Regions from separate parts of the Homo sapiens genome. Here regions 2, 3 and 4 are each linked to region 1. Evidence: fine-mapped expression QTL. A gene starts in region 1. Each other region holds a variant in brackets. All regions are shown on one strand. Distances are between the middles of the regions. Region 1 holds the start of CDR2 (cerebellar degeneration related protein 2). Region 2 overlaps VWA3A (von Willebrand factor A domain containing 3A). Region 3 overlaps VWA3A (von Willebrand factor A domain containing 3A). Region 4 has its middle 41 kb from the start of CDR2-DT.

What was found. PIP is the estimated chance that this variant, and not a neighbour inherited with it, causes the effect.
Region 2: its variant is fine-mapped to the expression of CDR2 in whole blood (INTERVAL, PIP above 0.99).
Region 3: its variant is fine-mapped to the expression of CDR2 in whole blood (GTEx, PIP above 0.99). The same link has a PIP of 0.9 or more in lung.
Region 4: its variant is fine-mapped to the expression of CDR2 in whole blood (INTERVAL, PIP above 0.99).

The regions. Positions count from the first base shown.
Region 1 is chr16:22,370,414-22,378,517 of GRCh38, forward strand. It overlaps CDR2 (cerebellar degeneration related protein 2), which reads right to left and starts at 4,206. Exons shown (of 5, transcript NM_001802.2): 1 at 3,818-4,206. The coding sequence starts at 3,896. It overlaps CDR2-DT (CDR2 divergent transcript), which reads left to right and starts at 4,474. Exons shown (of 3, transcript NR_148970.1): 1 at 4,474-4,810; 2 at 4,914-5,147; 3 at 7,728-7,767. RefSeq lists a silencer at 3,739-3,968 and enhancers at 4,509-4,588, 4,929-4,978.
Region 2 is chr16:22,149,472-22,157,575 of GRCh38, forward strand. It overlaps VWA3A (von Willebrand factor A domain containing 3A), which reads left to right. Exons shown (of 34, transcript NM_173615.5): 29 at 316-460; 30 at 1,224-1,375; 31 at 3,040-3,163; 32 at 6,096-6,193; 33 at 6,380-6,445; 34 at 6,561-7,493. The coding sequence ends at 6,431. Among named protein-coding and RNA genes, the nearest start is that of SDR42E2, 9.0 kb to the right of the region's middle. The variant A/G (reference allele first, on the strand shown) is at 4,544.
Region 3 is chr16:22,123,893-22,131,996 of GRCh38, forward strand. VWA3A (von Willebrand factor A domain containing 3A) reads left to right here. Exons shown (of 34, transcript NM_173615.5): 17 at 2,286-2,405; 18 at 7,313-7,387; 19 at 7,693-7,837. Among named protein-coding and RNA genes, the nearest start is that of SDR42E2, 35 kb to the right of the region's middle. The variant A/G (reference allele first, on the strand shown) is at 3,223.
Region 4 is chr16:22,411,965-22,420,068 of GRCh38, forward strand. It overlaps the pseudogene RRN3P3. Among named protein-coding and RNA genes, the nearest start is that of CDR2-DT, 41 kb to the left of the region's middle. The variant T/A (reference allele first, on the strand shown) is at 4,952.

The DNA of each region.
Region 1 (8,104 bases):
TCATTTACTGATCCACATAACAGAAACCTGAATCCTTATTCTAAGTTTGCACAGCTCACCAAATGACAATAGCAGCTGGTTTAAAAGAAAATCCAGTCTCTGAAGTCTTTCCACCTTGTTCTCAGGGGCATGTTTCAAAGCAAGCACCATCATTACCTGCACTGAAGGCTCCTGCTGTCCCAGAAAAGATCTTACCCACAGAGATTATTGTCAGTATTCCTACTGAGCCAACTCAGCTCTCTGACAAAAGACAGTCTCTTCATCAAAGAGTTTTGTAACAGCAAAGGGTTTTCTCCTCCTGCCTACACAAAAGCTTTACATGTTTCTAACAAGGTATGAATAGTAGACCAGAGTTTACTGAGGTTAGAAATTTCCAGCAATTTCAATTTAAAAACGGATACCCTAGGAAACTTTGATACAAAGATTCAATCTATTCAGAGCATGGCTTACTACTGCTAAAGGAAAACATTCTATAGTTGTAAGATACTGAGAACAGGATCATTAAAAGTTGTTTTCCAGCCAGGTGCGGTGGTTCACGCCTGTAATCCCAGCACTTTGGGAGGCCGAGGCGGGTAAATCACGAGGTCAGGAGATTGAGACCATCCTGGCTAACATGGGGAAACCCCGTCTCTACTAAAAATACAAAAATTAGCTGGGTGTGGTGGCACGTGTCTGTAATCCCAGCTACTTGGGAGGCTGAGGCAGGAAAATGGCTTGAACGCGGGAGGCGGAGATTGCAGTGAGCCAAGAGCGTGCCACTGCACTCCAGCCTGGGGACAGAGCGAGACTCCACCTCAAAAAAAAAAAAAAAGTTTTAAGCAGTTCTCTCCAAATAAGCCTTGCTCAGTAATAATAATGAGGATGTTAAAAAACGGACAGATGCCTGCACATAAAATCCCACTAGACTTGCTGAATAATCTGTTTAACAGGACAGACCTGCTCCCAAACTTAATTCAGCAGCAAGTGTCTACTGAGGGCCTACAATGTACGAGGCGCTGTAGTGGGCACATCCCATGAGGCGGCACCTCCAGGCTTCTCTAGTGAACAGATTCCTGGAACATTCACTCTATGGGAGTAGGAATCCTACCTATCCACTCATGTGGGGAGGTGCTGTGGCCCCAGGGCCCAGGCGAATACCTGGCAAAGAGCAGATAATACATTTTTGAGAAATGAACAAGTTTTAAAATCTGTTAAAAGTTTAGGAGTTAACATATAACTTAGCAAAACTGGGGAAAGGATACCCTTTTATTCACACTGTAGCCTTTATTCTTTGACAGGCCATATTCACAAGTTACAATTGTTGGAATTTCACATCTTCTACTCGTACTCCATATAGTTGGTTATGACACAGAGGGTTAAGTCAAAGTCCACTGTGATAACGTAACAGCCCTTTGAAAAACACAGAAATGCAACTGGCAGTAAAGAGGTTCAGATATGTGTGTGTGTGTGTGTGTGTGTGTGTGTGTGTGTGTTTTGAGAGGGAGTTTCGTTCTTGTCATCCAGGCTGGAGTGCAATAGCACGATCTCAGCTCACTGCAACTCCGCCTCCCAGTTTCAAGCAATTCTCCTGCCTCAGCCTCCCGAGTAGCTGGGATTACAGGGGCCTGCCACCACACCCACCTAATTTTGTATTTTTAGTGGAGATGGAGTTTCACCATGTTGGCCAGGCTGGTCTCGAATTCCTGGCCTCAGGTTATATGCCCGCCTCGGCCTCCCAAAGTGCTAGGATTACAGGCATGAGTCACTGCGCCCAGCCCAGACCTGTGTTTTTAAGGTTAAACTTGAAGAGCTGATGACTTTATTTTGATCAGAGGTTAAAGAGAATTCCTCGTGTAACCCTGACACGTTGCACTTGCTGCTCGGTAGATTGAAGTGTTACAGCTGTTGTTCCTAACAACCTCCCACAGCGGGAGAATGCAGCGTGGACTAAGGCACCTGATGGAAGAGAGCCATGAAAACAATTCTGTGCGAGTGCTTCAGTGCAGTTCAACAAATATTAAAATCGAGCTTCCAGTATGTGCCAAGTATTATGCTAGATGCTGGAAACACAAGAAAAAAGAACCTGCCCCCTCTATGCCCTTAAAGATTAATGCTTCTTAAATACAGGAAAGAGAAATATTTAGTTGTGATGATACAAATTAAATTATAGGGAAGTACTGCAGTGGTACAGTGGTTGCCTCACAAATCCTGGAGAAACTATCAAACTAGGCCATCAATCCTTACGGGGAAATCTGAAAACAGGTTTGTTAATATGTATAATAAATTTGTCTCTTGGACATAAAGAAGATGGTGCCAAACACTGCACTGCAACCACTAAGTAGCTTGGACTCTGTAAGTGTAATAAAGGTGAATTACTTTGGTTAAAGTGATTGCATGTTAATTTAAGAAATTATCTTCCTCCAAAAGAGGTGCTCATTTTATTTTCCTTTTCTGAGTTATTCAGGTCTACATTCTTTTCTTCTGCCATGTTCAGTGGTTAGCATGAACAAGCAACATGATCATTTAATATTCAACTAAATGAGATGTTAATTTTCATTGCAAGATTAGAGCTGAGAGCATTTACACAGAATTGCAGAAACTGAAGATGCCTGGAAAAATTCCTGAGGATTGTTCAGTACTCAGTATAGCGGTTAAGAACGTTTGCTCTGGAGTCTTAAGGAGAACCCTAGCACTCCCCAACATTACTACCTCTATTGTGTTACTGGGAGAATTAAATGAGCAACTGTGTTATGGGCCTATCAGTGTTAGGCACATAAAAAGTGTTCCCCAACTGCTAGCTCCTGCTATTAGTATAAGAAAAACAGGGGCCCCACTGGCCCCAAAGAGTGGGCTACTCTACGATTGTTCTCTGGAGACACCATCGGCAGGCCTGTTTCTAAGTGAAAGCTGGCGTGCAAACTGAAGAAAAGTGGCAGAGATAGATGCGCTCTTTCTTCTGTCGTTTCAATTGGCATCTGGTGAACTATGCCTAACAGCTTAACGCCCAACTGAAAAAAACTGTAAACTAGGATGGTAAGGAAGAGATGGGGTTTGAGCAGTGACTACAACTCTTCTTCTGAGTGTGTGGGTTCAAAAAACACTCCCTCCCACACTTAGCTTTAGGCAAGCCACTTTACCGTTTTAATCTCCGCTTTCCTCATATGGAAAATGGGATAACAAAAGTGTGTAATTGGATTGTTTGTACCTCAATGGATAAATGCTGGGATGGACGCCCCGTTCTCCATCACGTGCTTATTTCACACTGCGTGCCTGTATCCAAACATCTCATGTACCCCACAAATATATACACCTACCATGTACCCTCAAACATTAATTTTTAAAAAGTTACTGTCTCCTGGAGTTACGGTGCGGAGCGCACAGCTCCCGCTACGCCGCAAAACAACTACCACCTGCAGCAGCCGGCCCTCCACGCTGGCCATGAAAGGCGCTGGGCTAGACAGCCTGCGACGGGGCGGCTTCTCGGGCTATGCCACTTACTGCGGGACACACTGGCTCACCCGGGTCTGCCTCGGAGGAATGCAGTGAGGATTAAACTAGCTAATCCACGGAAAGCGCTTAAAACGGTGCCTGGCTCGTCCCTGGCCCCCACGCGCCTCGGGGCTGATATTCAACTGCGCATTAGCAAGGCCGTGGGCCCCGTGCCGAGGCTTCCTGCGGGCGGGATCCGCGGGCACGGCCGGCCCAGCCGCCAGGTGAGCCTGAGCCCTTCCCGGCACCTGCATCCTCCGCCGCCACAAAAAGCAACTTTTTAACAGTTTCGCAGCGGGGGCCTCCCGGGCCAGGCCGCCGCCCGCCCGCGGGGCGCCCCCGCCCTCACCTTGCTGGAGGTCCTGGTGGTCGTACCACGGCTCGTCCTCCTTCATCTCAAACTCCTCTACCAGGTTTTCCGCCAGCATCTCGGCTGGGTCTTCTAGGGGCAGCGGCCCCCGCCGCCGTCCCGCCTCAGCCGCTGCCCCGGGCTCTTCCCCGGCCCCTCCGCCCTCAGCCAGAGCCGCCCTCGGGCGGGACGCGCCGCCGCCCAGACTCCGCTGCGCCGCCTCAGCCCCGTTCCCGCCGGCGGCCGCCGACCGGCCGGCTGCCTCGACTCGCCTCGCGCCTACCGACGGCCCCAACGGCCGGGCATTACGGTGCGAACGCCTGGAGCCGGAGTCTCACGCAGCCGCCAGTCTTCACGCCGCCGCCGGGCCCAACGTGGCACTTTGGCAGAACCCTCCCCGGCCGGGGATGCGATTCAAACCCCCGGCGGCGCCTCAACCAATCGCGAGCGGGCTGCTGGCCGAGCGGCAGGGACTTCGTCCAATCGCCTCTCTCCAAAGACCGGCGGCTCGCCCGGTATCGAGGGCAAGCAGCCAATGGTGGGTCCGGAATAAACAAAGAAGGCGGGGAAAGAGTGAAGGGGTGCGGCCGAAAGCCCGTCCCCTGATCTGCGCTGTGAGGCTCCTAGGAGGGCGTTCTGGGTTTCGGGCTGGGGAGCTGGCAGAGGCGCGTCTTACCCCTGTGGTGGGTGTCCCGAGGCCGGCGCGTCTGTGGACAGGCAACGCAGGCCGGAGGGCCTAGGACTCCGGCCTCTGAGAGGCGGGCGGTTGTCCAGGGGAGTCCTTCGTGCCGGCGGGAAGCGCAAGGGTGCCGGAAGCCTGAGGTCCGCCGCCCGGCCACCCCTTCTCGCATCTTGACTCTGAGATTTGCTCCGGGTCCGGCGGGGAGACTCGAGGTCGATCGGGAGTTTGGGTTGAGAAAACGCCCACTGAGCGGTAGCTCTTGTCTCCTTGACATCTGAGCCCTGGGAATTAAACTCACGCTACATAAAACGGTGGGCACCAGACCCCCTTGAGAATCTGGGGCGGTGAGGGATGCCCGAAGCTGTCCACTTGGAGGGCGAAAATTGTAAGCAGTGTTGCAACGATTTTTAAAAGGTACCCCTAGACCACAAGTTAAGCATCTGGGGACGTGACATTGCACCTGGAGGGGACAGGCTGCAGCTCCAGCACTTAGTAGCCAGCGAGGCAGAGCACGCTGTCCTCCACCGACATAACCCAGCAAATACTGCTCCTAGGTAAAGCTTTAAGCACCATCTTGCAGACAAAGCACGGAAACTCTTAAGCAGGATGACAGACCTGAAGGTCAATGTTCTCAACCTTGACGTAAAGGTAAAGGTGCAGCTGATGGAAGACAACAGGGCCAATATCTAACTAACTTTGAGCAACGAAACAAAAAAAAATCGAGGTTTAAGTATACAATTGAAAGATTATCTCTAGAACATGAGGTAATAAACTGTTAGAAATTCAGAGAGAGGGAAGAGGTGGAGAGGAGTGTTAAATCCTGATCTATTTTAGAAGTGAGTCGACAGATAATACCTTACATTGATAATCCAATGAATAGTTTCCACAAATATGGAGAGAGCTGCCAGAACTAAAAATGGGAAGCAATTAAGAGTTTTCCGAGGCTGGACACGGTGGCTCACGCCTGTAATCCCAGCATTTTGGGAGGCCGAGGCGGGCGGATCACCTGAGGTCGAGAGTTCGAGGCCAGCCTGACCAACATGGAGAAACCCCATCTCTACTAAAAATACAAAATTAGCTGGGCGTGGTGGCGCATGCCTGTAATCCCAACTACTTGGAAGGCTGAGGCAGGAGAATTGCTTGAAACCCGGGAGGTGGAAGTTGCAGTGAGCCGAGATTGCGCCATTGCACTCCAGCCTGGGCAAAAACTGCGTCTCAAAAACCAAACAAAAAAAAAAAGTTTTCCTAAGAGGAGGAGTGATTTGAGGCTGGGGACTTTGGCTTTTTGTTATAAACCCTTCTGTGATCTTGCTTTTTTAGTTACTTGCACATTAAAAATAAGGGAAATTGTAGGGAAGGAATTATAGACTCAAGCTACTTTTTTTGTCTTTCTGTATAAAAAAAGACTTGGGTAATTTGGAAGGGGGGAAAAACTCATCCTGAATAATTCTTGTGGGTAATAAAATTCAGGGTGTCTCTCTGCCTCCCATCTTTGCTCAAACCAGCATAACCTAACCTCACGCTGATGCTGTATCAAACAGCACTTGACTCCAGGGTTACCTTACACATAGGCTGTAGGCTACTCTGGAGAAGTCTTGCCAAGGACAAGACCTCCCACTGTGGAGTTGTTACCTGAAGTTTTACCCTTCAGTCCTTAAAGGAGACTGCTGAATAGAGTGGAAAGCACAAGGGACCTAGAGTGAGAAAACCTAGAGTTCTCGCCATACTCAGTACCAGCAGAGAAGCCTTTTAGCAAACAGTTTACAGGAAAGATGATTGTTTGCCTTGCTCACAGAGCTATCTGAATCAGAGAGACCCTGAAAGCAAGTATTTTGTGCTCATTTTAAATGTAAGGCTGTGTTCTTGTGACCTATACTGTAGAAGTGCAGGTACCCTTGAGGACCAATTATGAGCATCACAATAAATAATCATAGTAATGGATTATAACCCATTGAATAAAAAGGAAAGAATCCATGAGTCCATACTGACATAAATAAATGGGAGAGAAAAGAAAACTTTCTTACAGTAGGATGCCAAGCAAAAAATGTAGAAGGAATAACACTGTTAGAAAGTAATAATAATAATAAAAGAGGAATGGTAAACTCACAAATCCCTTTCTTCAAAAAGGCAAAATGTTACTGGCACACCTGTAGTCCCAGCTACTTGGGGGGCTGAGGTGAGAGAATTGCTTGAGTCCAGGAGTTTGAGGTTACGATGAGCTATGATAGGTGACAGCAGAGCAAGACCCTGTCTCAAAAAAAAAAAAAAAAAAAAAAAAAAAAAAGGCTGTGTACAGTGGCTCATGCCGTAATCCCAGCTCTTTGGGAGGCTGAGGCAGGCAGATCACCTGAGGTTGGGAGTTCAAGACCAGCCTGGCCAATAAGGTGGCCCATCTCTACTAAAAATACAAAAATTAGCCGGGAGTGGTGGTGCAAGCCTGTAATCCCAGCTACATGGGAGGCCAAGACACAAGAATCCTTTGAACCTTGGAGGCAGAGGTTGCAGTGATCCGAGACCGTGACACTGTACTCCAGCCTGGGCAATAGAGTGAGACTCTGTCTCAAAAAAAAAAAAAAAAAAAGAAAGAAAGAAAAGAAAGTGAGGTCCTGTAAAGCCTCTTCTACTGCCCTAGTTGTCCATCGAGATATTCAGAGTTGAAATAAGATCACTTCAAACAAACTATCTTAATCACTAAAGATAGAACCCTTTGGAAAGATAGCAAGTTGGATTTAGGAATAATTGGCAATGGTGATTTGTGGAAGCTAAAGGGCTAGAATCATGCAGGGGCATTTTTTTTTTTTTTTTTTTTGAGAGAGTCTCACGCTTGTCACCCAGGCTGGAGTGCGATGGCGTGATCTTGGCTCACTGCAACCTCCGCCTCCTGGGTTCAAGTGATTCTCCTGCCTCAGCCTCCCAAGTAGCTGGGATTAAAGGCGCCCACCACCACGCCTGGCTAATTTTTGAATTTTTAATAGAGATGGGGTTTCAGCATGTTGGCCAGGCTGGACTTGAACTCCTGACCTCAGGCAATCCACCAGCCTCAGCCTCCCAAAGTGCTAGGATTACAGGTGTGAGCCACCGTGCACGGCCCCCTTCACGATTCTTATCACTGATTCGCAAGGTTCAAAGTGCCCGCTGTTTGCTCCATCGAAAACAGAAGCTCATTTTGACTTCAAATGCATATTGAAATGTTCTTTAACAATTCTCCATTTTTTTTTTCTTTTTCAGAGTCTCACCATGTGGCCCAGGCTGGAGTGCAGTGACACCATCTCTGCTCACTGTCACCTCCACCTCCCTGGTTCAAGTGATTCTCGTGCCTCAGCCTCCTGAGTAGCTGGAATTACAGGCATGTGCCACCATATTCGGCTAGTTTTTGTGTTTCAAGTAGAGTCAGGGTTTAGCCATGTTGGCCAGGCTGATCTCAAACTCCTGGCCTCAAGTGATCCGCCTGCCTCAGCCTCCCAAAGTGCTAGGATTACAGGTGTGAGCCACCGCGCCCAGTCAACAATTCTCCTTTAAAAAAGAAAAGAAAAGAAAAGAAAGATATGGAGAATTAAAGTTTTTGAGGGTCAGGCGTGGTGGCTCACGCCTGTAATCTCAGCACT
Region 2 (8,104 bases), 220 kb before region 1:
TGGCCTCAAGCAATCCTCCCAGCTTGGCCTTCCAAAGTACTGGGATTACAGGCACAGGCCACTGTGTCTGGCTTGGGCTGGGATTTAAATCTATTTCTGTCTGCATTCAAATTGTCAGTGTGTACCCTCTCATTCTCAAGAGGCCCCACAGCCCTCTCCCTGAGGGGCCACAGGGCTCGTTGTAGGGGTCTTCAGTGACGAGCAAGAATAGTCCTCATGAGGGTAACTTATCTGAATTCAATCTAGACAGGCCTGTTCTAACCAATCTCTTTCTCCCCTTCTCTGCCCCTCACCTCCTCTTTTCCTCCTCCCCAGTTTTAACCTGCTCAGCTTTGCAGAGAGCTTTCAGTCATGGCAGGACACGCTGGTGGAGACCACAGATGCAGCGTGTCATGAGGCTATGCAATGGGTGACCCACCTGCAAGCTCAGGGCAGCACCTCCATCTTGCAAGCATTGCTGGCAAGTCCCACCACGGAGCCCGACCTTGACGCAAAACAAATACCATCATCCCCTATGCTGATGCTGCACGATGCTTTAGGATTTACAAAGGGCGCTTTATAATTTACAAAGCACTACATCATTTCATCTTCCCAACACCCGAGTGAGAAAAGGATTCTCAATGTTCTCACATTATAGATGAAGACACAGGCTGGGTGCGGTGGCTCACACCTGTAATCCCAGCACTTTGGGAGGGCAAGGCAGGTGGATCACCTGAGGTCAGGAGTTCAAGACCATCCTGACCAACATGGTGAAACCCCGTCTCTACTAAATACAAAAGATTAGCCGGGCGTGGTGGCACATGCCTGTAATCCCAACTACTTGGGAGGATGAAGCAGGAGAATTGCTTGAACCTGGGAGGCAGAGGTTGCAGTGAGCCGAGATTGCACCATTGCACTCCAGCCTGGGCAACAAGAACGAAACTCCATCTCAAAAAAATAAAAATTAAAAAAAATAGATGAAGACACAGAGGCTCAGAGAGGTTAAGTGACTTGCTTGGGATTAACCAGCTAGGCAGTGAACCATGCTATTTCTCCTAAACCTCAGCAGCTTCCTTAGTCTGTCTGAGGCTGAAAGAGAATCTCAGTCTTTTTGAACAGGTCAGTGGCATCCAATCAGATGCATTTTGGCAGAGGCGGCAGCAGGCACTACCTTTAGGCATTTGGTTCTTGTGTTCTGGGTGAGCCTCTCCCCTGAGCCTGACAGCCTTCCTGCGTTCTTTCAGAAAGCTTTCAGTTTCCATGATCTGGAAGGATTGTACCTCCTGACCGACGGAAAGCCAGACACAAGCTGCAGCCTTGTCCTAAATGAAGTCCAAAAACTCAGGGAGAAAAGAGATGTGAAAGTGCACACCATTTCCTTGAACTGCTCAGACAGGTGCGCAATATGGAGTCTGACTGAGTTTTATTCTTTTTCCACAGCCACACATCTCAGCAGGGAGATCCAAGCCCCTCACCTAATCTAGCTGCTCACTTAGACACGGGTTTCTCCTGGGCCCTAATCCTGTAAATCAGAAATTAGGAGAAGCGGCCGGGCATGCTGGCTCACGCCTGTAATCCCAGCATTTTGGGAGGTTGAGGCAGGTGGATCACTTGAGGTCAGGAGTTCAAGACCAGTCTGGCCAACATGGTGAAACCCTGTCTCTACTAAAAATACAAAAATTAGACAGGTGTGGTGGTAGGCGCCTGTAATCCCAGCTACTCAGGAGACTGAGACGTGAGAATCACTTGATCCAGGGAGGCAGAGGTTGCAGTCAGCGGAGGTTGCACCATGGCACTCTAGCCTGGGCAACAGAGTGAGACTGTCAAAAAAAAAAAAAAAGAAAGAAAAGAAAGAAGTTAGGAGAAGCATTGTTTTTCTAGACGGCCCAAGCCGGTGTCACACCACAGGGTGAAAACCCCTCTCTTTACCCAGATATTTCCCTCTGACTTCCTCCAGCCTGGAAACACATTTGCAAGGGATTCACACAGTCATTTTACAGTCTCCCTCCTACTCTTCCCTGGGATCACATTTGTGAATATTTAGGGGACATTTAGGGGAAAAGCCAGAGAGAAAAATATTAATGTAGCATTGTCATGGTTATTTTTTTTTATAAACGATCACTATAGACCATGTGCTATGACCGGGCACAATGGCTCATGCCTATAATCCCAGTGCTTTGGGAGACTGAGGTGGGAGGATCACTTGAGGCCAGGAGTTCGAGACCAGCCTGGATATCATAGCAAGATTCCATCTCTACAAAACAAAATAAAAATGTGAAAAAGAACACATGTCAGATAAGACATACTCAGCTCCTTCAAAAAAAAAAAAACTTTATTATTAGCAAAACAGACTGCATAGGGACACATTTTATCTCTTGGTCTAAACCATGAGCCCCATAAGTGTAATATGTGTGTCCTTTACAGGCCTAACACATAGTAGGCACTGGATAAATGTCCCATAAATAAATGGGGGCTAGGCTGAGCACGACGGCTCATGACTGTAATCCCAGCACTTTGGGAGGCCAAGGCAGGCAGATCACCTGAGGTCAGGAGTTCGAGACCAGCCTGGCCAACATGGCGAAACCCCGTCTCAACTAAAAACATACAAAAATGAGCCGGGCGTGGTGGCAGGTGCCTGTAGTCCCAGCTACTCAGGAGGCTGAGGCAGGGGAATCGCTTGAACCTGGGAGGCTGAGGTTGCAGTGAGCCAAGATTGTGCCACTGCACTCCAGCCTGGGTGACAGACTGAGACTCTGTCTCAGAAAAGAAAAGAAATGGGGGCTGGAGTGTGTGGGCTGTGTGGTTTCAGGGGGTCCAGGCTAAATGGTGACACTCACACGGGGACTCCTCTTCCCTCAAGCAGCAGCAGTTGCTATAGCTGTCCAGAAGCTGGTGGGGAAAGTGTCCTCTAATGGTGGTCTCCATGGGACAAGCCACGGCCCATTGCCAGGCTGATTTCTCTTAAGCCCCACGGACTTAAGTTCCCCATGGACGTGGGGAGTCACACGAACTTGCCTGGTCAGTCAGCCTTCCCACCAGCCCTCTGTCCCTTCCTTCCAGAGCGGCGGTTGAGTTCCTGAGAAAGCTGGCTTCCTTCACCGGCGGACGCTATCACTGCCCTGTGGGTGAGGACACACTCTCCAAAATTCACAGCCTGCTGACCAAAGGCTTCATCAATGAAAAGGTAGGTTGCAGAGCCACTGAGCATGAGGTCTGTTGAAACGGCTCGATAAAATATCAACAGGCATGGGGTTTTCCTTCTTGAACTCCTGGGCTCAAGTGAACCTCCCACCTCGGCCTCCCAAAATGTTGGGATTACAGGCATGAGCCACCACGCCCATCCTGGGTTTTCCTTCTGACGAAAAAGATCTCTGCTTTTCGTTGAGACAAAATATTAGCTGAAAAGGATTGGGTTTCCCTGCTGCTGTCCTTTTAGGCTGACTCTCCTCAAGGCTGGGAAAGAAGCAGGATTTGAGGGTGTTATATTTCCTGATGGTCAGGCCAGTTTGCCTTTGTTGGAAATTTATGTGGCTTTATGTAGATAACCTCTTTTAATATTATACCCATTTAACAGGTGAACGAGAGGGCCAGCAAGGTTTAAGAATACACCTAAAGCTGGGCACGGTGGTTCACACCTGTAATCCCATCACTTTGGGAGGCCGAGGTGGGTGGATCACTTGAGGTCAGGAGTTTGAGACCAGCCTGGCCAACATGGTGAAATGACGTCTGTACTAAAAATACAAAAATTAGCCAGGCATGGTGGCATGCACGTGTAATCCCAGTTACTCGGGAGGCTGAGGCAGAATTGCTTAAGCCTGGGAGACCCAGGTTGCAGTCAGCCGAGATTGCGCCACTGCACTTCAGCCTGAGTGTCAGAGCAAGACTCCGTCTCAAAACAAACAAACAACAACAATAAAAACTAGTCAGAGGAAGTGGTATAGCTAGAGCCCCAAGACACCCATGATCTTAAACTTTGTGCTTTAATTCCTGCATATTTGTGTCTTCTGGGGTTCAATTCATTGAAATACAGACATTCAAGTTATCTGTTAAGCAATAGATCTGGCAAAGTCATAGGTTATCTATTAAGTAATAAGTCTAGTAAAGTCATAGATTTCAATGATCCACTTCTGACTTAATAGGAAAATTCTGCACTTATTTATACCTTTTAGGAATGCAATGTTGTCAGTGATAACATTCCCAGCGCAACAAATTATCAAGTAAGACAACCAATCAGAATTCCAGATTTCTTTTCAGAGGTTAAAGGTTACTTTCACAGGACATGGCATAATTTTTTTTTTTTTTTTTTTGAGACAGGGTCTCATTCTGTTGCCCAGGCTAGAGTGCAGAGGAACAATCACAGCTCACCACAGCCTCCACCTCCTGGGCTCAGGCAATCTTTCCACCTCAGCCTGCAGAGTAGCTGGGATCACAGGTGTGCCACCACGCCCAGCTAATTTCTTTAATTTTTTGTAGAAACAGGATCTCACCATGTTGCCCAGGCTGATCTCAAACTCCTAGGATTAAGTAATCCTCCCGCCTGAGCTTCCCAAAGTGTTGGGATTAC[A/G]GGTGTGAACCGTCAGGCTCGGCTGGCATAATCTTTGAAGCCTGGGTAGCCTTACATGACTCCTTTGGTTCAACTAGCTCTTCTAGGGACAAGTATTATAAATAATACAGAGAACTGAACAAATTGGTAAAAGTAATGAATATTCACCCAAGCGTCCTTATTACACAGGAAAACAAGTGATGATATGTTTAAGGCTCTCAGCTTAATTCCTTATCCAATCAGATTCTCTGAATTGTTTTTGCATGCAGAATGGGATTGCTGTGCTACTACTGCCAGGCAGAAGGGATGGCTTCCTCTTTTTTCTTTTTCTTTTTTTTTTTTTTTTTTTTTTTTGAGATGAAGTCTTGCTGTGTCACCAGGCTGGAGTGCAGTGGCATGATCTCAGCTCACTTCAGCCTCTGCCTCCTGGGTTCAAGTGATTCTCATGTCTCAGCCTCCCGAGTAGCTAGGATTACAGGTGCCTGCCACCACACCCAGCTAATTTTTATATTTTTAGTAGAGATGAGGTTTCATCATGTTGGCCAGGCTGGTCTCAAACTCCTGACTTCAAGTGATCCACCCGCCTCAGCCACCCAAAGCGCTGGGATTGGTAAGATGTATTTTTAAGGATAGGTGGCGAAATTTTATTAGTTAACATTTTTTTTAAAAAGCATGCCTCAGCCGGGCGCGGTGGCTCACGCCTGTAATCCCAGCACTTTGGGACGCCGAGGCGGGTGGATCATGAGGTCAGGAGATCGAGACCATCCTGGCTAACAAGGTGAAACCCCGTCTCTACTAAAAATACAAAAAATTAGCCGGGCGCGGTGGCGGGCGCCTGTAGTCCCAGCTGCTCGGGAGGCTGAGGCAGGAGAATGGCGTGAACCCGGGAAGCGGAGCTTGCAGTGAGCCGAGATTGCGCCACTGCAGTCCGCAGTCCGGCCTGGGCGACAGAGCGAGACTCCGTCTCAAAAAAAAAAAAAAAAAAAAAAAAAAAAAAAAAAAAAGCATGCCTCAGCCAGGTGTGGTGGCACATGCCTGTGGTCCTAGCTACTTGGGAGGCTGAAGTGGGAGGATAGCTTGAGCCCAGGAGGTCGAGGCTACAGTGAGCCGTGATCACGCCACTGCCCTGCAGCCAGGACAACAGAGCAAGGCTCTGTCTCTAAAATCAACCAAATAAAAAGCATACCTGTAAGTCTACTTCACTAGAAGAAATGCAAAAAATGGCTGAACAGATTCTACTGAATAGCGCTGAGATAAGGAAACGGTGTCATTTCTGTTCCACTGGACCAGAGTGGGGCCACTTTCACTCAGATTCTGACACCATCGTACTTTGCCACCGTCCCCTCCCTACACTGACTCTCAGACACCATATTTCAAAGTTTCCCCTTTGCAGAATGACTGTCTTGATAGGTAGTGAGCTTCCTGACCCTGGAGATATACAAGCAGAGGCTCACAAGATTTCCTGCACTGGATGGAAACCAGAACGTGATTAGCTCTAAAATGCTTTTCCTGAGATTTTGGATTTTCAGCTCCCATCCAGTCATAAACTTCACACTCATTTCCTCTTTTCAAGGATCCCACATTGCCACCATTTGAAGGAGATGATTTAAGGATCCTGGCCCAGGAGATCACCAAGGCCAGAAGCTTCCTCTGGCAGGCCCAATCCTTCAGGTATGCCCTTCACGCAGCCTCTCCGGCCTGCCATGTGGCTACAGCCCATGCAGACCCCGGACCCCATCGAGAAGGGCCGCACCCATGATGGTACCCTTGCTCCAAGGGTTCCTGCCCTGCTTCTCCCAGCCAGCCCAGAAATCTGGGCACCAGGGAGACCATCTTTCTTCATCTCCTGCCCACCAGATCCCAACTCCAGAAGAAAAATGATGCAGAACCAAAGGTCACTCTTTCCTAGAGAAGTGTTCTCAGGTAAGGGGAGGGGCTAGACCCCATACTACCTGAGTGTGCACTAAGCACCAAGTGGCATGCTCTATTTTGTGGTCAATAATAACTTTGGTTAAAAAATAATGATTCCTCTAAACAGAAAAGTCATCCTGCAAAGGACCACTCACTGAGCAAATCTCAGCCCCGAGGGCAGGATGGGATGAAATGCTGTGACCTGCAGGAAACATGATTCCTGGTACCAGGACTCTCTGGAAGCTGAGGAAGGAAAGACTTTGTCTTTTGTGTGAGGGGCCATTCCCGGGTCTTAATCTAACTCTCCAGCCCTGTCCCGCAGCGCACTCTACTCTCCAGCCACTAGATTGTCCCTCTCTGGGAAGCCCTAAACCAACCCCCTGCCTAAATGGTGGTGCTTCTTGCAAACCAACCCCCTGCCTGAACGGTGCTTCTTGCCCCCTCTGCCTGGAGACTCCTGCTCATCCATCAAGGCACAGCTCAAATGACATCAGCTCCCTGGGACCTATCTAGAGCGAGGGGCCTCCAGTCTTTCTCTTGCAGCATCCTGACCACGCAGACCTCTCGCACTCAGCACTCTATGTCACGCCACCTTGCTCGCTGATCTAACTCTTCTCCTTGATGGTGAGCTCCTTCGGGATGAGACTGGTGTCCCAGGATCTGCAGGTCCCCAGAAGCTGCCACATAGGAGACACATGGTGAACAGTGAGCAGGCGGCTGAGCTGTGAGAGCCTAGCTCTGGAAAGCAGCTGATGGGGTGGTCTCCACCCTGGTTCATAAGAGGCTAATGCAGAGTCACAGTCAGCCCATCCTGGGGGAAGAAGAAACAAGTGAGCCTCAGCACCACCCTCCATCCCTGCCCAACCAAACTGAAGTGAAGGCTGCTCATCTGGGTTCATTTTCTAAAATTAAAAACAATTAATTTTATTCTACTAATAGGATCAACATGACTTTAACTGTTTGAAGTGATCATTGGCGTGTGTGTGTGTGCATAAATTTTTAGTGACATAAAACTTTATTAAAAGACTCATACCATAATAAAGAATTTCAATAAGAAAAAGATAAACATCCATTTTTTTGTTTTTTTTGGAAACAGAGTCTCGCTCTGTTGCCCAGGCTGGAGTGCAGTGGTGCAATCTCGGCTCACTGCAACCTCCGCCTCCTGGGTTCAAGCAATTCTCCTGCCTCAGCCTCCTGAGCAGCTGGGACTACAGGGGCCTGCCACCACGTCTGGCTAATTTTTGTTTTAGTAGAGACAGGGTTTCATTATGTTGGCCAGGCTGGTCTTGAACTCCTGATCTCAGGGGATCTGCCCGCCTTGGCCTCTCAAAGTGCTGGGATTATAGGCGTGAGCCACTGTGCCTGGCCCATCTCAATTTTTTTTTTTTTTTTAGGCACAGTCTCACTCTTTTTGCCCAGGCTGGAGTGCAGTGGCACGATCTCAGCTCACTGCAACCTCCGCCTCCCAGGTTCAAGCGATTCTCCTGCCTCAGCCTCCCGAGTAGGGTAGCTGGGATTACAGGTGCCTGCCACCACGCCCAGCTAATTTTTTTTATTTTTATTTTTAGTGGAGACGGGGTTTCACCATGTTGGCCAGGCTGGTCTCAAACGCCTGACCTCAGGTGATCCGGCCCGACTGAGACTCCCAAAGTGCTGGGATTACAGGCATGA
Region 3 (8,104 bases), 250 kb before region 1:
ATCATTGTGTCACTGAGCATTTTTGCAATCCCAGCACTTGGGGAGGCCAAAGCGGGAGGATCGCTTGAGGCCAAAAGTTTGAGACCAGACTGGGCAACATAGTGAGACCCTGTCTCTACAAAAAATAAAATAATTAGCTGGGCATGGTGGTGTACACCTGTAGTCCCAGCCACTTAGGAGGCTGAGGCAGGGGCAGGCGGGTCGCTTGAGTCCAGGGGCTCAAGGCTGCAGTGGGCTATGATCGTGCCACTGTACTCAAGCGTGGGCAACAGAGCAAGTCCCTGTGTCTACCACAAAAAAAAAAAAAAAAAAAAAAAAATCACACCTCCTCCCTGGCCAGAGCAAATGGGTCATGGATGAATAGATCCTCCCACCCAGCCAGAGGTGTGATGTTCTGATTGGCCAGGGTCAAATGCCCATCCCTGGAGCTTGGAGTAGGCTCAGCTTCACACAACTCAAATTGACTGATAGAGGCAGAGGTGTTTCCCAAAGGAAAATCAGGATGCTGTTGCCAGATGAGGTAATGGATGCTGAGTTGGGAGAAACAATAGTTATCTATTATGGCCATTATTATGATTCCATACCTTGTTTGATGAATTAACATTTACAAAGTATTATATTTTGTAATACTATACATCTATTATTATTATTATTATTATTATTATTATTATTATTATTATTATTAGAGACAGAGTCTTGCTATGTTGCCCAGGCTGGTCTCAAACTCTTGGCCTCAAGCGATTCTGCTGCCTCAGCCTCCCATCATGTTAGGATTGCAGGCATGAGCCACCGCACCTGGCCACTATACATCTATTATGTAATTTTGTTCTTGAAGCAACCCTATGATGAGTCTTACAAGTAGTTTATGGTTAAACTACTTAAACAAAGATCAGAGAGGTTTTGTGACTTGCCTAAGGCCACACAGCTGGTAGGAAGCGGAACTTGAACCAAGGTCTTCTGACTGTAAATCCCATAGATTTTCTTTTGCTATCCATAGCTGTCTCAAAATGAGAATGGGGCAGAAGGTGGGAATATAAGTTTGAAGTTCTAAAATTAGAGAAAGAACAAATAAGGCTAGAGATCTTAAAACAGAAAGAGAGCAAACAAAAAGATAAAAATATTTTCCAAGAGGCCCAGATACACCTAATTCCTTATGTTACTTGCTCACCTGGTTTTCGTTTTCCCTACGAAGACCCCAACCTATGGCGGGCATAGTGGCTCATTCCTGTATTTCCAGTACTTTGAGAGGCCAAGGCAGGAGGATCACTTGAGGCCAGGAGTTCAAAACCAGCCTGAGCAACATGGGCAGACCTGGTCTCTACAAAAAAAAAAAAAAAATTTAAATTAGCCAGGCATGGTGATGTGTGCCTGTGGTCCCAGCAACTTGGGAAGCTGAGGCAGGAGGATCTCTTGAGCCCAGGAGGTTGAGGCTTCAGTGAGCCACGATCGCACCATTGCACTCCAGCCTGGGCAACAGAGAGAGACCGTCTAAATATATATATATTTGTTGTGTGTGTTTTGTTTTGTTTTGTTTTGTTTTGTTTTGTTTGAGACGGAATCTCGCTCTGTCACCCAGGCTAGAGTGCAGTGGCGCGATCTTGGCTCACTGCAAGCTCTGCCTCCCGGGTTCATGCCATTCTCCTGCCTCAGCCTCCCAAGTAGCTGGGACTACAGTCGCCCGCCACCACGCTCGGCTAATTTTTTTTATTTTTAGTAGAGACAGGGTTTCACCATGTTAGCCAGGATGGTCCCAATCTCCTGACCTTGTGATCCGCCCGCCTCGGCCTCCCAGAGTGCTGGGATTACAGGCGTGAGCCACCGCGCCCGGCCTTATATATTTGTTCTTGAAGCAACCTTATGATGAGTCTTACAAGTAGTTTATAGTTAAACTACTTAAACAAAGATCAGAGAGGATTTGTGACTTGCCTAAGGCAATATACATATATATTTTTTCATATTCTGACCTATAAAAATATTGAATGCTAATTCTTTAAAATAAATCTGTGAAAATCATTATATGAAGCGCCTACCACTTAAACCATCTCCACCATGAGGCTTTATTCCATTAAAGCACCTCCTGGGAGAGAAGGGGGGCTTCCATGACCCCCTTAATCTACCATTGTAAGCCCACATCCGTTGGCCTCAAACCACAGAGAAGATTTTGGCCAGCTATGAATTTGGCATGCAAAATTCCCCTGGAAAAAAACTTTAAATAGTAAAATGGAACAAAATAAACATTATCTCAGAGATTCGGTTCTCCTCTTAAAGCTCGTGTTTCCTTTTAGGGTGGTTGTACTGCTCGATATCTCTGCGACCAATTCCATGTACATTATTCATATCCAGCACTCCCTGCGGCTGCTGCTGGAGGAGCAGTTATCCAACAAGGACTGTTTCAACCTCATCGCGTATGTGTCTCCTGGCTCCTGGGGGCAAGGGTGGGTCGTGTGTGTTTGGATGCCGTCATTGGGCTGAGGCTTTGGACGTTGCTGGACGATAGATATTGACGTCATGGTCACCCGGCTTCCTAGGATAGCCATCGGTTTATCTGATTTGGATGATCTTGTTTGGGGCATTGAATAATTAAATAGTTGCAGGACTGTCCTACTGGGGCGAAGGTGGTAAGTGACCCCATAACACACTGCTTGATCAACCAGGATAAAGTAATTCAGCCCATTGGCCCATTTGGCTTCCAAGATGAAATAGGAAGAAGAGGAAAGGAAGGACCCCAGCCATGCCCTAGTGTCAGTCCTCAGCCTGTCTCCAGCAAGCCATACCTTTTCAAACATTTAGGATTCCAATTCTGAATTTAAATTAAAACTGTATATATAAATTTGGCCAGGTGCAGTGGCTCACGCCTGTAATCCCAGCACCTTGGGAGGCCGAGACAGGAGGATCGCTTGCATCCAGGAGTTTGAGACCAGCCTGGGCAACATAGTGAGACCCCATCTGTGTTTTAATAAATAAATAAAATTATATGTATACATTTAATTATGTGTATATATATATAAATGGTATGCAATTTTTAAAACTGTATAATTTAGAATTAAATACAACAAAGATCAGAGAGGTTTTGAAGATTTGAACTTACTTCAAAATTATATATAGTTTTAAAATTATATATAGTATATATAGTTTTAAAATGTTAATATAGTTTTAAAATTATATTTTATATATAATTAAATATAGTACATATCTAGCATTTTTAATTTAAAAACTATATAT[A/G]TAGTTTGTTTTTGGTTTTGTTTTTGTTTTGAGATGGAGTCTCGCTCTGTTGCCCTGACTGGAGTGCAGTGGCTTGATCTAAGTTCACTGCAGCCTCCTCCTCCCAGATTCAAGCAATTCTTCTGCCTCAGCCTCCCAAGTAGCTGGGTCTACAGGCACACACCACCACACCTGGCTAATCTTTGTATTTCTAGTAGAGATGGGGTTCACCATGTTGGCCAGGCTGATCTTGAACTCCTAACCTCAAGTAATCCGCCTGCCTCAGCCTCCTAAAGTGCTGGGATTACAGGCTTGAGCCACTGAGCTCAGCCATAAAAACTATATATATAGTTTTTTAAATTGCATACTATTTTAACTAATAAGGGAAGACAGAGAGAAAAGGAACCCACTTAAAGTGTAGGTTTTTATACAACCTCATACCAAATAGGGCATTTTCTAAACCTATTAAGTCAACAGTTAGTATTAGATATTATTCTGTACCAGAGCCCAGTCATTCCTTAATAAACTCTATATAAAAATATTTATGGTAACATTATAGATAAGGAATTTTATTTATTTATTTACCCATTCATTCATTCAGCAATGTTTCATTGACAATCTGCATGAACCAGTCCCTGTGCCAGGCACTGGGGAGATGGACATGAAGACACACAAAACTCATCCTCGAGGAACTCATGGCCTAACAGTGGGAGACAGGGATGTTAAGGAGTGCTGTTAAGCGTTTTCTATAGAAATGAGTAGATAGCTAGGTATGGGACTGCAAGGTATCAGTGGCAGGATCAGTCCATTCCACTTGGGTGGAGTAGGCTCAGGACATCTTCATGGAGCAAGTGCCCCTTTTGCTGAGTCTTGATGAATAAGTAGATGTTTGCCTAGCACCTGGGAATGATGGGGTCCTAGGGAGAAAGGGTGTTCCAGGTAGAGGCAACAGCATGAGCAGAGGTGTGACGTATGCTAGAACCTTAGGGACCATCAGGTAGTTCAGCATGGATATGGGGCTGAGAGGGAGAGATTGTGCATGACAGAAATACCAGGTGATGGAGGATTGATATAGGCCATGCTCACGAGTTTCCTGTGCTATAGGATATAAAGGCACTGGAGGATTGCAAGCAAGGTACAAATACAATCGGGTTTGCGTCTTCAAATGCTCAAGCAATGCTGTGAAGGAGGAACTGAAGGGATGTAATACTGGAGGGAAGAGACCAGTTTGACTATTGCAATTGCCTGCCCTAGTGTTGAGTGGGCTTGAGCCAAGGCAATGTGAATGGAAGAAAGAGTGCGTGGCCAGTAAGAATGCCATATTAAAGTCAAAAAATAACAGGTGCTGGCGAGGTAGCAGAGAAAAAGGAGCACTTACACACTTGGTGGGAGTGTAAATTAGTTCAACCATTGTGGAAAGCAGTGTGATGATTCCTCAAAGACCTAAAAACAGAACTACCATTCAAAGTAGCAATCCCATCCCTGGGTACATACCCAAAGGAATATAAGTCATTCTGTCATAAAGACAAATGCATGTATATGTGCATTGCAGCACTATTCACAATAGCAACAGATGGAATCAATGTAAATGCCCAGCAGTGGTAGACTGGATAAAGAAAATGTGGTATGCATATACCACGGAATACTATGCAGCCATAAAAAAGAATGAGATCATGTTCTTTGCAGGAACATGGATGGAGCTGGAGGCCATAATCCTTAGCAAACTAACACAGGAATAGAAAATCAAATACAGCATGTTCTCACTTATAAGTGGGAGCTAAATGATGAGAACACATGGACACATAAAGGGGAACAACACACACTGGAGCCTATTGGAGGGTGAGGGTGAGAGAAAGGAAATCAGGAAAAATAACTGATGGGTACTAGGCTTAATACCTGGGTGATGAAATAATCTATATAACAAACCCCCATGGCAGGAGTTTACCTATATAACAAACCTGCACACGTACCCCTGAGCCCAAAATAAAAGTTAATCAAGAAAGAGGTGCATGGAGGCTGGGTACAGTGGCTCACGCTTGTAATCCCAGCACTTTGAGAGGCCGAGGCGGGCGGATCACGAGGTCAGGAGATTGAGACCATCCTGGCTAACACGGTGAAACCCCATCTCTACTAAAAATACAAAAAATTAGCCAGGCGTGGTGGTGGGCACCTGTAGTCCCAGCTATTCGGGAGGCTGAGGTAGGAGAATGGCATGAACCTGGGAGGTGGAGCTTGCAGTGAGCCGAGATTGCGCCACTGCACTCCAGCCTGGGCGACACAGCGAGACTCCATCTCAAAAAAAAAAAAAAAAAGAAAGAAAGAAAGAAAGAAAGAGGTGCATGGAAGAGATTTTGGGGAGTTAGAATCTACAGAATGTCATCACTGGCTGTAGGGGGTGAAAGAATGGTGAAGAGAAGATGATGTCCCAAGAAGAACAGATCTCTGAAGGGAAAGATGGTTTTAAACATCCCGAGTCTGAGACACTCAAGAGTTTGGAGACATTAAGAGGAGGAGGAGCTCCAGTGAGGAGACCTAGCCAAGAAATAAGGGGTTTTGAGCCATCAGCATTTTGATTCTATGAATGAAATAAATGGTAGTGCAGGGATCGCACCTGTGGAGATGCGAAGAGGAGAGAGAAGACAATCAAAGGCAGCACTTGGAAGACACCAGCATTCGAAGGGTGGGCAGAAGAAGGGAACCACCAAAAGAACACAAGAAAGAAGAACCCAGAGAGGTGGGAGGAAAACAAGAGAGAAAGGTGTTGGGATGCTGTGTTAGTCCATTCCTGCACTGCTCTAAAGGAGTACCTGAAGGTCGGGCGCGGTGGCTCACCCCTGTAATCCCAGCACTTTGAGAGGATGAGGCATGTGGATCACTTGAGGCCAGGAGTTTGAGACCAGCCTGGCCGACGTGGTGAAACCCCGTCTCTACTAAAAATACAAAAATCAGTGGGTCTCAGCGGTGCAGGCCTGTAATCCCAGCTACTCAGGTGGCTGAGGCATAAGAATCACTTGACCCAGATTTATTATCCAACGATAATAGGGATATATTTCCACTGGTGGGGGAATGGAGGGCATTCTTTATCTCTACCAGGGAATGCCCCCAGGGTGGAAGTTTGACTGCAATAGGTTGAGGAGGTGAGGAAGTGGTGGTATACTGTGTTTCCAGGGAGCTTGTCCACAAGGGGAAAGAGAAAAGAGCGAAGTCACTCATAGAGTAGCTTCCCAGGGGAAGGAGGATGTTCTTGTTAAGTATAGAGAGTCTGAAACAGGTAGAGAGGCGCGGGGCAGAGGGAAGTGGAGAGAAGTTGGGAATGTGTGGATGTGAGGGAGGAACTGTGGGGCAAAGTCTCAGAAGAGATGGGTGATGAGGTCAAAGGCCAGGTGGAGGAATTAATCTCAAACTAGAGAGGGGACAACTTTTCCTTCATAAAGGGTATAAATCCTCTTCTCAAAGATCTTAAATTCTGTCTTACAGGACAAATGAGACAATGTGGGTTTTCTGGATTTGAGGATTTGTTTGTTTTTTGAGATGGGATCTCACTCCATTGCCCAGACTGGAGTGCAGTGGCACAATCATAGCTCACTACAGCCTCAGCCTCCTGGACTCAAGTGATCCTCCCACCTCAGCCTCCTAAGTAGCTAGGTTGACAGACATGTGCCACTATACCCAGCTAATTTTTTTTATTTTGTAGAAATGGGGTCTTGCTATACTGCCCAGGCTAGAGGTATATTTTTTTTCTTTGCCAAATCCTGTTGATTACATAGATGTGTATTTAAAAAAAAAAAACAAACTATAGTATGGATAGGGAGGGGAAATGTGCAGTGAGAGAAGCCATGCTAGGGGAGGTTAAAGAGGGGGCCACACGCCATAGCTCAATGCTTCAGAAAGGAAGCTGACCAAAGCTGGCTCACACTGTGTCTTGGCTGAAGTATGTTGGGACATATGACCCACAAGGAAATCTCATGGCTGGCCCAGGCCAGTGACATCCTCACATTTTAGGGGATCTCATCAGAATTTTGTCCCCACTAAAAGCCTGCAAAGCCCAAAGAGGTGGGCCACCAAGTGGACCTCCCCCAGCCTAAGAACGAACTCTCTTTGCTTCTTAAAGGTTTGGAAGCACAATTGAAAGCTGGAGGCCTGAGATGGTTCCCGTGAGTCACAACAATTTACAAAGTGCCTGGCGGTAGGTTATGGGCAGAGACTTCGTGGGGCTGTGTCTGAGGGAAGGTTTGCAGGCATTGTTTTCTCTGTCCCCCTCTCCACCAAGAAGTAGCTCTCTAGAGTCCCTGACCCCAAACAGCCATGGGCAGAAATCAGAAAACAGCTTCCTTCTGTCTGCTGCTCTCCCCACCTGGCCATCTTCACTTTATGAGAGTGATGACATCGACTCCATCACGTCTGAGATGGAAAAGGCTCTCAGCTACTCCCAAAAGGTATGCCCTGGGCATGGGCCAATGACCCTCAGCATGGCCATCTCTGCCTCCGCAGGTGGGCCCTGAACCTGCGGTGTCGGGGCAGCAGGAACGTTCTCAGCGCCCTGCGGAAGGCTGTGGAAGTAGACTTCAAGGACAAAGACAAACACCAATCGCAGGGAATCTACCTCTTCACTGGGGGCATCCCCGACCAGGACATGGTGGGTAGGCCACGTCCTGGGTGTCCATTATCCTTTGCGACCTCATCCGTCTTCCCCCAGGTGGATACCTTGCCAAGGTTTCTGCAGCATGATTTCTAAACCAGTGCTTCTCAAACTTTAATGTATAGACAAGCACCTAAGGATGCTGTTAAAATGCAGGCCCTGGAGACCAGCCTGGGCAATATAGTGAGACCACATTTCTGTAAAAATTTTTAAAATAACCTGCCATGGTGGCACATGCCTGTACTCCCAGCTACTCAGGAGGCT
Region 4 (8,104 bases), 42 kb after region 1:
CATTCTTTTATTTATGAACATTTTCTTTTCTTTTCTTTTCTTTTCTTTTTTTTTTTTTGAGACCGAGTTTCGCTTTTGTTGCCCAGGCTGGAGTGCAATGGCGCGATCTCGGCTCACCGCAACCTCTGCCTCCCAGGTTCAAGCAATTCTCCTGCCTCAGCCTCCTGAGTAGGTGGGATTACAGGCATGCGCCACCACATCTGGCTAATTTTGTATTTTTAATAGAGACGGGGTTTCTCCATGTTGGTCCGGCTGGTCTCGAACTCATGACCTCAGGTGATCCACCCACCTTGGCCTCCCAAAGTGCTGGGACTACAGGCGTGAGCCACCATGCTGGGCCAAACATTTTCAAATATACAAAAAAGTTTTAAAAGTTACACAGTAATCTACATTCAACTATTTATAACCTACTGTATTAATTTTATCATGTATTAATTAATGTATCCATCCTTCTGTCAATTAAACCATCTTATTTTCCTCACAACTTTTTATTATAAAATTTTCCAAATATAAAAAAAGTTTAAAGAAAATTACAGAGAAAATACATGCATATACCCACTTCTTAGATTCATCAATTGCTGACATTTTACCATATTTGGTTTATCTGTATCTCTGTGTGTATGCATATTCTGTTCTCTGGACTATTTATTTTTATTTTCTATTTTTATTTTTAGAGATGGGATTCTGCTTTGTCACCCAGGCTGAGAGTGAAGTGGTACAATCATAGCTCATTGCAGCCTCAAACTTATTTATTTACTTTTTTAGAGATGGGGTCTTGCTGTGTTGTTCAGGCTGATCTCCAACTTCTGGCCTCAAGTGATCCTCCCACCTCAGTCTCCCTAGTTGCTGGGATTACAGGTGTGAGCCACTGTGCCCGGCCACTTTATATGTTGAAGTTTGTGTCATGTCATGACATAAGGTGCTTTCTCATTCTTCCTTTTTTTTGAGACAGAGTCTTGCTCTGTCGCCCAGGCTGGAGTGCAGTGGCATGATCTCATCACACTGCAAACTCCACCTCCTGGGTTCAAGCGATTCTCATGTCTCAGCCTCCTGAGTAGCTAATTTTTATATTTTTAGTAAAGACAGGGTTTCACCACATTGGCCAGGCTGGTCTCAAACTCCTGACCTCAAATGATCCACTTGCCTTGGCCTCCCAAAGTGCTGGGATTACAGGTGTGAGCCATCACACCTAGCCTATATATCTTTTTTTTTTTTTTTTTTGGAGACAGGGTCTTGCTCTGTCTCCCAGGCTGAGTACGGTGGCTCAATAACAGCTCATTGCAGCTTTGAACTCTTGTGCTCAAGGGATCCTTCTGACTCAGCCTCCCTAGTAGCTGGGACTGCAGGTGCACGACACTGTGCCTGGCTAATTTTTAAAAATTTTTGTAGAGACAGGGTCTCACTAGATTGCCCAGGCTAGTTTGAAACTCCTGGGCGCAAGTGATCCTTCCTCCTTAGCCTCCCAAAGTGCTGGGATTACAGGCGTGAACCACCGCATCCAGCCTTCTCTGAACCATTTTAAGTTAAATTGCAGATCTAGTGGCATGTCACCCCTGATAGTTAACCATGCATCTCCTAGAAATTAAAAAAAAAAACAAAAAAACAGAAAAAATGGCGACTGGACAGTTTTTAGTTTTGAGCGGGGGTAATTACCTGATTTGACTTACCTTTTTTTTTTTTTTTTTTTTTTTTTTGAGACAGAGTCTCATTCTGTTCACCCAGGCTGGAGTACAGTGGTGCAGTCTCGGCTCACTGCAACCTCTGCCTCCTGGGTTCAAGTGATTCTCCTGCTTCAGCTTCCTGAGTAGCTAGGATTACAGGTGTGTGCCACCACATCCAGCTAATTTTTGTATTTTAGTAGAGACGAGGTTTCACCATGTTGGCGAGGATGGTCTCGAACTCCTGACCTCAGGTGATCCGCCTGCCTTGGCCTCCCAAAATGCTGAGATTAAGGTGTGAGCCACCACGCCCAGCCTTGACTTACTTTTTAACAGCCTCCCTTGGGGTGCCAGCCTCCCTTGGGGTGCTGTGTAACGAATAGACTGAAAGGAGTTAGGAGAAGTCACATGGAAGAACCTGTTGATTAGTGACATGAGTTACAGCACAATTGATGGCAGCTAGAGGGGGTGAAGTCGAAAAGTCAATCAGGGCTGATGATGTGAAGGATCTGTACACTGGATTTAGAAGATGTATGTGCTTTTAATCCTATACATTAGGGTTTCACAAATATGATGAATTTTTGACATTTGTTATATGAGTACTCTATGTACTAATATTTACTCAGTATTTTTCTTTAAATTTATTTTAAATCACTAACTTAAAACAAATCTTAACTGCCATAAGAAAAAGCAACCATAAAATCATTCATTTGGTAGGTTTCAATTTTTCTAACGCCAGTAAAATAAAAAGAAATGGCTGGTGGCTCACTCCTGCAATTCTAGCACTTTGGGAGGCCAAGGCATGATCACCTGAGGTCAGGAGTTCGAGACCAGCCTAACCAACATGGTGAACCCCCATCTCTACTAAAAATACAAAAGTTAGCCAGGTGTGGTGGTGGGCGCCTGTAGTCCCAGCTACTCGGGAGGCTTAGGTATGAGAATCGCTTGAACCCAGGAGGTGGAGGTTGCAGTGAGCCAAGATTGTGCCACTGCACTCCAGCCTGGGCTACAAGAGTGAAATTCCATCTCAAAAAATAAAAAATAAAAATAAAAAGAACTATTATGTATCATGTAAAAATTATCATGTGTGCCAGCAGGGGTCCAGATGCTGTACTTTGGGAAAGACCACTCTAGGTAAAGGGAAATCACTGAAGATTTGAATGCATGAGACAAACATCATCTGAGCCAGGCATAGTGGCTCACACCTGTAACCCAGCACTTTGAGAGGCCGAGGCAGGTGGATTGCTTGAGGCCAGGAGTTCAAGACCAGCCTAGCCAACATGGCAAAACTCCATCTCTACTAAAAATACAAAAATTAGCTGGGCGTGGTGGCATGCGCCTGTAGTCCCAGGTACTCGGGAGGCTGAGGCACAAGAATCGATTGAACCAGAGAGGCAGAGGTTGCAGTGAGCTGAGATGGTGCCACTGTACTCCAGCCTGGGCAACAAAGCAAGACTCTGTCTCAAAAAAAAAAAAAAAAAAAAGAAAGAAAGAAAAACATGATCTGAATTTTGTTTTAGAACAATCTGTTTATAGTGTAAAAGAAGCACTGAAGGCTTAATTACTAAATGGAAAAATGAAGGCTTAACTACTAGTTGCCTACTATATCATAAGTGCTCAGAATATGAAGATAAATAAAATAGGTTGCTGCAACTAGCTGTTTACAATCTAGTAAAGGAGACAGACATGAGGAGAGATTTTTGCAGCACGAAATAGTAGATACTATGATTAGAAGTATATATAAGATATAATGGTGGCTAAAAGGTGGGCATGATCATCACTGTCTTGGGAACCAAGTCCAGGAAGGCTTCACAGAAAAAAAAATGCTTCAGCCAGGTTTCAGTGGAGGCATAAATACTGTGCATGGGGCCAGGTGCCATTGCTGATGCCTGTAATCCCAGTGCTTTGGGAAGCTGAGGCAGGAGGATCCCTTGAGGCCAGGAGTTTGAGACCAGCCTGGGGAACATAGCAAGATCCCCTCTCTACAAAAAATTGAAAAATTTGCCGAGTATGGTGGTGCACAGCTGTAATCCTAGCTACTTGCTAGGCTGAGGTGGGAGGATTGTTTGGGCCTGGGAGTTGGAGGCTGTAGTGAGCTATGATTGTGCCACTGCACTCCAGCCTGTGTGACAGAGCAGGATCCTGTCTCAATAATAATTATAATAATAATACTGTGCATGGAGATTGGATGTATCCAGTGAAGAGAAACAGTATAGACATATGTGCAACGCATAGATGTGTAAAATGATACAGCATTCATTCAACAAATATTAACACCTACTACGTACCAGGTCCTGTGCTAAACCCAAAGGAAAAAGAGGAAAAGATGCAGCCCCCACTCTGAATAAGCTCACAGTCAATTATAGTGAGAATCTTAATGTTGGATGCTAGGTGCTATTACAGATGTAAGTGTGGGCTGTTGAGGGAGTGCCCACTGGCTTAGCATACAATTCAGACTGAGGAGAAAATAAATGATCTCTCTAATGAATTTTGAAAATTCATAGTAGCAGGGAGTCTGTGCAAGCACAGAGAGGCATGAGGTTGTAGGACATGATTGGAGGAATGGCTGATGGTTTAGTAGTAGAGCTTGAGAAGTGTAGACCTGATCCTAAAAGGAAAGGAGCATTATAATTATTAAACCAAGAAGTAATAATATCAGATTTGCCTTTTAAAAGATAACCCTGGGCTGGGCGTGATGGCTCACGCCTGTAATCTCAGCACGTTGGGAGGCCGAGGTGGGTAGATCTCTTGATCTCAGGAGTTCGAGACTAGCCTGGGCAACATGGTAAAAACCCATCTCCACAAAAAATGCAAACACTAGCCGGGCATGGTGGCATGCACCTGAAGTCCCAGCCACTTGGGAGGCTGAGGCAGAATAATTGCTTGAACTCGGGAGGTGGAGGTTGTAGTGAGCCAAGATTGCGCCACTGCACTCCAGCCTGGACGACAGAGCCAGACCCTGTCTCAAAAAATAAATAAGTAAAAATAAAACATTAGGCCGGGCGCGGTGGCTCACGCCTGTAATCCCAGCACTCTGGGAGGCTGAGGTGGGCGGATCACGAGGTCAGGAGATCGAGACCATCCTGGCTAACATGGTGAAACCCCGCTTCTACTAAAAATACAAAAAGTTAGCCGGGCATGGTGGTGGGCGCCTGTAGTCCCAGCAGCTCGGGAGGCTGAGGCAGGAGAATGGCGTGAACCCGGGAGGCAGAGCTTGCAGTGAGCTGAGATTGTGCCACTGCACTCCAGCCTGGGTGACAGAGCAAGACTCCGTCTCAAAAAAAAAAAATAAA[T/A]AAATAAATAAAATAAATAAATAAAATAAAAGATTACCCTGAAGTGTGTTTTGAAGGGATGTTAGCTGGATTGCAAAGAACAGTTAGAAGGCTAACAAAGTGATTTTATATGAGGAATGCTGGTTCCACTGGTTAATATTGTGCATGGGGCCAGTGTGGTGGCTCACGCATGTAATCCAAGCCCTAAAGCAGTGGAAGACAGAAGGCAAGAGGAGACTGACATGAGAGATTAAGGAGTTAGAACCGCAGAACTCAGTGGTATCTCATTATAGAAGCATGGCTCAAAATTGGGTAATTGTGGCTAAGAAATGAGTATCTGAATGAAGGAAGTGAATGTGGACTGTCCTGGACCGCATTTCTTCTGTAGAATGTAATTCTTCCTCAGACTCATCTTCTCCATTTTCGAGGTGACTGTTTTCCACCTGAACTGGGGACATTGCTTGAAATCCAAGTAGCAGTAAAAGCCTCAAGCAATATTGTAGTAGAAAACCCTGGTGATGGTCAAGTGTGGTGGCTCTCATCTGTAGCTCTCATCTTCCAGCACTTTGGAAGGCCAGAGCAGGAGGATCACTTGAGGCCAGGAGTTTGAGACCAGTCTGGGTAACATAGCAAGACCCCATTCCTACAAAAAAAATTTTTTTTAATTACCTGGGACTGGCCGGGTGCAGTGGCTCATGCCTGCAATCCCAGCACTTTGGGAGGCCGAGGCAGGCAGATCACAAGGTCAGGAGATCGAGACCATCCTGGTTAACACAGTGAAACCCCATCTCTACTAAAAATACAAAAAAAATTAGCCAGGCATGGCGGCAGGTGCCTGTAGTCCCAGCTACTCGGGAGGCTGAGTCAGGAGAATGGCGTGAACCCGGGAGGCAGAGCTTGCAGTGAGCCAAGATTGCGCCACTGCACTCCAGCCTGGGTGACAGAGCCAGACTCTGTCTCAAAAAAAAAAAAAAAAATTAGCCGGGAGTGGTGGCACATGCCCATAGTCCCAGCTACTTGGGAGGCTGAGGTAGGAGTATCACTTGAGCCCAGGAATTCGAGGCTGTTGTGAGCTATGATCTCACTACTGTACTCCAGCCTGGGCAACAGAGTGAGAGCCTGTGTCACAATCAATCAATCAGTCATTAGGCTGGGCTCTGTGACTCATGTCTGTAATCCCAGAACTTTGGGAGGCTGAGGCAGGCAGATCACCTGAGGTCAGGAGTTTGAGACCACCCTGGCCAACATGGTGGAACCCTGTCTCTACTAAAAATACAAAAATTAGCCGGGCGAGGTGGTGCGTGCCTATAATCCCAGCTACTCAGCAGGCTGAGGCAAGAGAATCATTGGAACCCGGGAGGCAGAAGTCACAGTGAGCCAAGATCACGCCACTGCACTCCAGCCTGGGCAATAGAGCGAGACTCTGTCTCAAATAAATAAATAAATAAATAAATAAATAAATAAATAAAATTAAAACCCTGGTGGCTAAAAGAGGACAGGAACAGAATCTGGAATAGAAAAGACCCAAAGCCCTGTATTTCCTGTTATAGCTTATTTGCTGATAGATGTCAGAGCAATGGAGGAATGGCAAGTGTGTTTTTAACCTATCTCTCTGAATTTTCTTTGTATTCTCAAAGAACACGAAGGCCCTAAAGCAATAGTTCTCAACCTTGTTGCACATTAGAATCACTTGGAGCCTGAAAAAGTCCTGATGCCCAGACCATACCCTAGACCAGTTAAATCAGAATGTCTGGGGCGTGAGATCCAGGCATATGTGTTTTTTTAAAATATAAAACAATACTTCATTTCCTTTATTACCTAGTTGTATCGTTAAAATAAGAACAAATACAGTGGAATGGAATACTTCATATGACTTCATGTGAAAAATACTTCATTATACAATAAACAACCCTCATGCATTTCAACATTGCCACCAGTAACACTAAAGACTCCCAGTTCTATTCATATGTGATCATCACTGCCCTACACCCCAACCCCAGCTCCTCCAAGCTTCAACAGGCATCAGTATTTTTCGTAGCCCCTGGCTTATTCCATCATGCAGCCAATGTGGGAATCTAGAGATTGACTTCCTTGGAAACAGAGGCTCTAGAGACTAATTCTTATTGGCTCAGCTATAGACACGTTGGCAGCCAGACACGTTGGCACACTAGTCTCATGGTACTATAAGCATTTTTTAGAGGTATAAACTCAAACAGCACACTCAAGTGTCATTTATCTTTGAGTGATAATTTAACAGTTGGCATTTGGTGGCCCCACATAGCTAATGCTAATCTGAAAGTGTCCAACTGAAGTCCACAGGTTAATTGCACACTTAGCAGGATATGGTGTGATGATCAGAGAATTCTTTGAGATTCACCAGTGTAAAGAATTTAGCAAAAATGTGGCTGGGCATGGTGGCTCTCGCCTGTCATTGGATCCCTTGAGTCCAGGAGTTCAAGGCCAGACTGGGCAACATGGTAAGACCCTGTCTCTACAAAAAATACACAAATTAGCCACATGTGGTGGTGCACACCTGTAGTTCCAGCTACTCAGGAGGCTGAGGCAAGAGAATTTCTTGAGAATTTCTTGAGCCCATCAACAGGTTTTGAATGTTCCAGTCTTTTTTTTTTTTTTTTTTTTTTTTTTTTTTGAGTCAGGGGTCTCATTCTGTCACCCAGGCTGGAGTGCAGTGGTGCGATCATGGCTCACTGCAGCCTCAACCTCCTGGGCGCAAGCCATCCTCCCCTCTCTGCCTCCTGAGTAGCTGGGACAACCATGCCCGGCTAATTTTTTTTACAAGACCACTGTTAAAAGCCCGGAAGAATCCTGCAGCTCGCTGTGGTGGGCTGTTTTGCGTGTGCTAGAGTCTATTCAGCATTTCAGACAGAAAAGCCTCAGCATTCCTCTTCTGTGGGTCTCCACCGTAGCTCCTTTGAAATCTCTGCTTTCTCACACTTTCCCATCTGAGTCTTTGTGCCATGGCCGTCCCCTCCTCTCCAATACGAAGAGCCCACACTCAGTTTCCCTCCCTCCTCCTCCATCCCACACTGCCCGAGCACCTCACCTCCCAATGACTGACTCGTCCCCGGTCTTGCACACACCTGGGGAGTGTAGCTGGCCTGTCCTGCACACCAGCCTTGCAGGCTCAGTGAGTAGACCATCCTTGTCTGCTCT